Linked DNA regions of Homo sapiens: region 2 is linked to region 1. The links come from fine-mapping of genetic effects on plasma protein levels. A gene starts in region 1. The other region holds a variant in brackets. All regions are shown on one strand. Distances are between the middles of the regions. Region 1 holds the start of ANXA5 (annexin A5). Region 2 overlaps LOC105377402 (a long non-coding RNA gene).

The links. A credible set is the group of variants that fine-mapping cannot tell apart. PIP is the posterior inclusion probability: the model's chance that the variant is causal. Protein levels are from antibody-based Olink assays in UK Biobank. Linkage for the fine-mapping came from a reference panel and not from the study's own genotypes, which makes the PIPs less certain.
Region 2: its variant is the best candidate, but not a certain one, in a credible set for the plasma level of the ANXA5 protein (UK Biobank, PIP 0.87).

Annotation. Positions count from the first base shown.
Region 1 is chr4:121,695,488-121,698,405 of GRCh38, reverse strand. It overlaps ANXA5 (annexin A5), which reads left to right and starts at 1,426. Exons shown (of 13, transcript NM_001154.4): 1 at 1,426-1,543; 2 at 1,782-1,825. The coding sequence starts at 1,817. RefSeq lists a silencer at 1,058-1,477.
Region 2 is chr4:121,646,269-121,649,186 of GRCh38, reverse strand. All of the region lies in intron 2 of LOC105377402 (a long non-coding RNA gene), which reads left to right. Among named protein-coding and RNA genes, the nearest start is that of ANXA5, 49 kb to the left of the region's middle. The variant G/T (reference allele first, on the strand shown) is at 1,362.

The DNA of each region.
Region 1 (2,918 bases):
CTCATTCTCAAAGAAGACTAGATCCTCATCTCTTACCCTTAACCTCCACGTTGAGAAGCACTTTGCCCTTCCCATTCTAGCATATGTCTAGAACACTGCATCTAGTGTCGCAAACTTGTCCTCTTGCCCCCTCTGCCCTGGCACCTTCCCTCCCCACACCAGTAAGTCTGAGAAGGTCCCTGTGTCTTCTACTTTTCCTTTTCCAGCATATGGAGACAAAAGTGATTATATCCCGGATGCTAATCCGCCATGTTGACCTTTAATAACCCCAGTCCCATGAATACCTCCTGATTCCTAGGATTTTTTTTTTAAACTGTCCTTAGCATAAGAACATGTCAACCTTGATGCTATTGCCCACATTGTAGGCTATGAAGCATACGGCATTCTCACCTGTTCCGGAGGGCTGCCTTTAATTGTCTTGCACAGAGCAGTATACTCTTTCCTTACGGTATATAAGGCCAGGGTCTGGGGAGTAACAGTGCAGAAATTTATCTGCTTGCCGCCGCCCAAGGCCACGCTTCTGTCTACCACATCCTCCAATAGCACCCCTATTACCTACAGACTGGATTTGTCTGTCTCGTTCTTTGGTTTCTTGACTCCTTCGCGTTTGGGGGCTGCTTTGCATATAAAGCCCTTTCACAGAACACAGCACCATGCTAGTACAATACGCTGTAGATTCTCCCTCCCTCCCCCTCTCTCTCATATACTCATATATTTTATGTTGAACCAATATGAGGCATTGCTCAAATTTAAGTCATATTAAAGTTCTAGGCTAGTTTTGAAAACAGAAACTGATTGGAAGCAGAGGTTTTCAAATAGCCCACATACGCTACTAGAAGGCTGTACATTTAAGAGAGGGCCATCTAGGAAGCAATAATAGGCATTAAAACAACAACAAAACAACAAAACAAAACAGAAACAAAAACAACTTGGGAAACGGCCCTCCTTTCACGTTTTTTCTATCCCATCGACAAAGGCGCGCTGTCCTTAGCTGCGATGATTTTGTCTCGCCTCCAAAAAGACGCCCACGCACTATGTTGAGCACCCAAGTGAGGCTACGGTTCCTGCGGTCACAGAGGGCAGGGAGGCTCAAGCACCTCCAAAACCCCGAGCCCTGGACAGCTCCCCAGGCCCTTCCCGCGGCGCGAGGACAAGAGGTCTCCGGGGCCCTCGGGGGAGCGGCGCCTCCTCCTGGTTCCAGCAGCTCTGCGGCCGCTCCCCACCCAGGCCCGCGAGACCAGCGGGACAGTCCGCGCCGCGGGAGACCAACTGGGACGAGCCGCGACCCACGCAGGCGCGCTGAGGCCGGGGCAGGGGCGGGCCCGGCTGGCGCGGCCGGCCTGCGGTTGGGGCCCTGGCGGGGGTGGGACGGGCCAAGCCGGGCAGGGCCGGGGTGGGGCCGCTGGCGTTTCCGTTGCTTGGATCAGTCTAGGTGCAGCTGCCGGATCCTTCAGCGTCTGCATCTCGGCGTCGCCCCGCGTACCGTCGCCCGGCTCTCCGCCGCTCTCCCGGGGTTTCGGGGCACTTGGGTCCCACAGTCTGGGTGAGTGGTCGCAGCCCGGGGAGGGGGCTCCTTCTGGAGAGGAGAGCGTGGTCGCGGGGCACTGGATTCGCGCGGACGCTCGGCCGAGAGCTGTCCCGGTAGCTGCGAGAGGGCGGGTCGGCCCCGTGGCGGGGCCCTCCGGGCTGTCTGAGCGCCGCCGGGTCCCCGCGGACCTGCGCTTGGGGAGGGCACGAGTTGCAAATGGCGCGCTAAGCCCGAGGTTTCTTCTCTTTTGCAGTCCTGCTTCACCTTCCCCTGACCTGAGTAGTCGCCATGGCACAGGTAAGGCCGTGCGCCCCCCACTGCGCTGGATTTACCCACAACTTTGTATGCTGCGACGAGGGACTTTTAGGATTTGTCTGAGAGCCAAAAAGTTTAGGAGGAAAGGGAACCTGCTTTGGGGACATCGCTTCCACTTTTCTTGTTCCCCCTTTGCTTCCCTGCCCCCGTTTCTGTGTCCCGGTTCTTCCCGCTGAGCGCCCTCCGGAACCAGCACCGACGCCGCCAAGCTGCCTTCGCGCGCAACAGCTGGTGACGTGGCCGGATTTGTGTGCGCTCCCTTTTCATGAGTGAATGTGTAAAAGTGGGCCTTCCCCAAAATCCAGAGAGTAGCTCAAATTAGAACCGGAGCAAGAACAGCTCATCGTGGTCATGTGAGGCGAACGCATTCCCCCCCCACCCCGCCCCCCGACTTCCTTTATTTTTTTTCCGCAAAGTTTTCTGTATTTTAATACTGTGATTGAGCATTGGCTTTTTCCAGTTGCTCAGCCCAGTTTTACTAAAACTGTAGGACGTAGGCTCTGATTTTTTTTTTAATCCAAAAGATTAAACACAAGCGCTGTTTTTCTTAAGCAATGAACTCGTGGAACGAGTTCTCAATTGAATTTGCCTTGGGACTGTTTCAGAAATTGATAATCTACTACAGGCTTTCTTTACTGTTTTTTTTTTTTCCTTTTTTTTTGAGACGGAGTCTCACTCTGTCGCCCAGGCTGGAGTCCAGTGACGTAGTGATCTCGCTCACTACAACCTCTGCCTCCCGGGTTCAAGCAATTCTCGTGTCTCAGCTTTCCAAGTAGCTGGGATTACAGGCGCCCCACCATGCCCAGCTAATTTTGTATTTTTAGTAGAGGCGGGGTTTCACCATGTTGGCCAGGCTGGTCTCAAACTCCTTGCCTCAAGTGATCCTCCCGCCTCGGCCTCAGGACTGTAATCCCACTGCGCCTGGTTTCTTTACTGTTATTAATGTTTATCAAAAATGTAGGAAAGAGAAGATAGTTTAAGGTCTTTAAATATTGACCATGTTATACAGTCTTTTGTGAATAAGATACCAGGGCTTAAAAACTCTAAAACTGATTTCACAGATCTTGTCAATCTA
Region 2 (2,918 bases), 49 kb after region 1:
GATTGTGTAAGCTCCACCAATTTCTTTTGTGATATCGAGGAAGGGGGGGTGACTCACAAAGCATGATAAAGTTTGGGGAAATATTTTATTAATATGAAAGATGAGGAATTTAGATTCTGACATGATGTGATTTTTAAAAAGAGATAATAGCATGAAATGTCTTCATCTTAGTGTTGTGGGGCAAATTTGAAGCATCTGTAGTGTACAGTTTAGCAGCTAATTAGCTGAAGCTAATTAAAAGGAAGATACCTAAAATTAATTTTTGATGATAGACATTGCTCTGTAAATTTGGAGCTTTAAGGTGTGTATTCACAGATTATTTTCTCTTTAGGAACAGGATTGCTAAATTTGTGTAGGTTATTATTGAGGCACAGGCAGCCTAAAACATGCCATAGTGATTTGAACAGTCCACTGTAGTGACTTGCTGTGTGGTTCACTTAAGAGGCAGCTCTACAACATTCCCCATCCCCTATTGCTTTCCATCAGCCACTGCGTCAAAGGCCTTGCCACATTCCAGGCACCTCATGGGACTTGGAAACGGGATGCAGGCCCAAAATCATCGAGAAGGAATCTCTCTACTGCCCTTCTATGGCCCCACCTCACTTTCCTCTACTCAAAACATGTAAATACATGGCCTTGATATTTAAAATATGAAAAAATTTATTATGACATTAGCTAAATATAAATGACTAAGTTTCAATTTCTATATTTATAAGAGATATAAGTTAGAGATGAGAAGATGTAGGCCCCATTACATATGTAAAAAAAAAAAGATCCTGTGTGCATTCAATGATTGATTGTTGAATGAATGCACCATAGTCCCTATGTGTTTTATACAGCCTCTGTATATAAAACACTTACAGCAAGCATGAGATAGTGTGATGAGCATGGCCTTTGCCATCAGAGGAACTCAGATTTAAATTCTGACTCTTCCCTCTTGGGCAAATCACTTGTCTTTAATTGGGAAAATCACTTATTTTCAAGATGGTACTAATAAGAACTTCTGCATAAAATTGCTATAATGATTAAACAGGGAAACATAAGTAACACATCTAACAAAGCACCTAGAATATAGTAATTATTCAATAAATATTTTGTGATAGTTAAGATAAACAATTCCAGCTGCTGTTAATATCTAAATCCAGAATTCTCAGACACTTAACCTTATCAAATCTATTCCTCACTCATTTCAGTGTGAGTATTTCTGGATGGGAGGAATTTTATGTGATCATTTAGGGAATTTCATGTAATCATTTAGGGACTAAGTCTCCTTTCTTTTTATGGCTCTGTCCTCTATGTCCTTAGAATTTTCTCCATTTAGCCTATAGATGGAGAAAGTAGGGTGATGTATGGGAAGTTTT[G/T]TTGGCATGCACCACTTCTCCCCATTTTCCATTAGCTAGAACTCTGTTATAGACACAAATGTAAGGGAGACTAGTTAATGTAATTTTGTTGTGTGCTTAGAAGAGAACGTGTGTTTGGTGAGCGTCTAGTTAGTTTCGGCCACAGTTTTATTCTCCTTCCTCTTCTATTTTTCTCTTTAAAAATCCAGGGATATTTTTATTTATTATTGTTGAATGCTTTTTCTTTTTGAAGGTCTAATTCATCTAGAATTTCTTATACATAAAAAGTCCTTTTTTGGTACCTGACCAAGTAGTGATCAAGGTTTGTATCAAAACCCTTGAAGGAGATGAGAGAGGGGAGGAGAGAGAGGGAACAACATGCAAGCATATTTAGTGCTTGTAAGGATGAGGTGAAATAGGCACTCTCATTTCTTCCTCATGAAAGAATAAATGAGTCCAACCCTTCTGCAGGGAAATTTGATTTAAAATATTTATACTGCTTGACATGGTAATTCTAGTTTTTGGAAATGACCTAAGGAAATGCTTTGAAATGCAGATATAAATCTGTGTAAAAAATGTTCACTATAACATTATTCATAGTAACAAATAATTGAAGACAATCTAAATGAAAACCCTAGGGAAATGGTTAAATAAATTATAGTATGTACACATAATGAAGTGTTATACAGCTGTTAGAGATAATCTTTAGGAATAGAATTTAACAACACAAAAACGCTTATGCTAAAATGTTAAGTGATGAAAATAGAATATACAGTTTTAAAGACAGTGTAATTCTACCATGGACAGAAAATATTCAAGAAAAATATTGGATATAACCCATGTCTATATCTAGAGTAGAATGGATAAATTAAATTATTACATATCATTTAATGGAATATTCAGCAATGAAATAAACTCCAGCTCCACCAAATAATGTGAATAAATCTTGCATATACATTGTTGAGTGAAAAAAGAATCAAGATATAAAATACATATATTATGATTTAATTTATATAAACTTTAAAGAAGAGACAAAATTAAAATAATAATTTTAGTAACACATGCTTATTTGATAAAATTATAATGAAAAACAAACAAGTAACTAGTAAATCTTTAGCAAGTCTAAGAATTTCCATGAGATTTTTGAAAACCTTTAAGGAGAAACATATAAATAAAACATGGAATTTTCTGCTACTCAAGCAGGTGTGGGGTGAGAGCATCAGTGTTTGGAGTACTAATGTAAAGGTGACCTCATTTGTTCATGCAGCCTGGTAAAACCTGGAACACACAGTTCCACAATCTACTGGTTTATAGTCTTTGGTAGCAAGTAGCAGAAATAAACTCAGGTACTTTGTATAAAAAAGAAATTGATCGTGAGTATATTGGATATATCACTTGGTTTTATTTAACCCCAAAGTAAACAAAAACACAATTACATCTGGCTTAAATAATATGGACCTTCATTATCTCAAGTAACAAGAAGCCCAGAGGTCCCAGAGTTGGCTAATTCAGTAGCTCAATCAGAGACTCAGGTACCTTTTGTCTAGCTGTTCTCTCTAACCACAGCCTGTTGGCGAG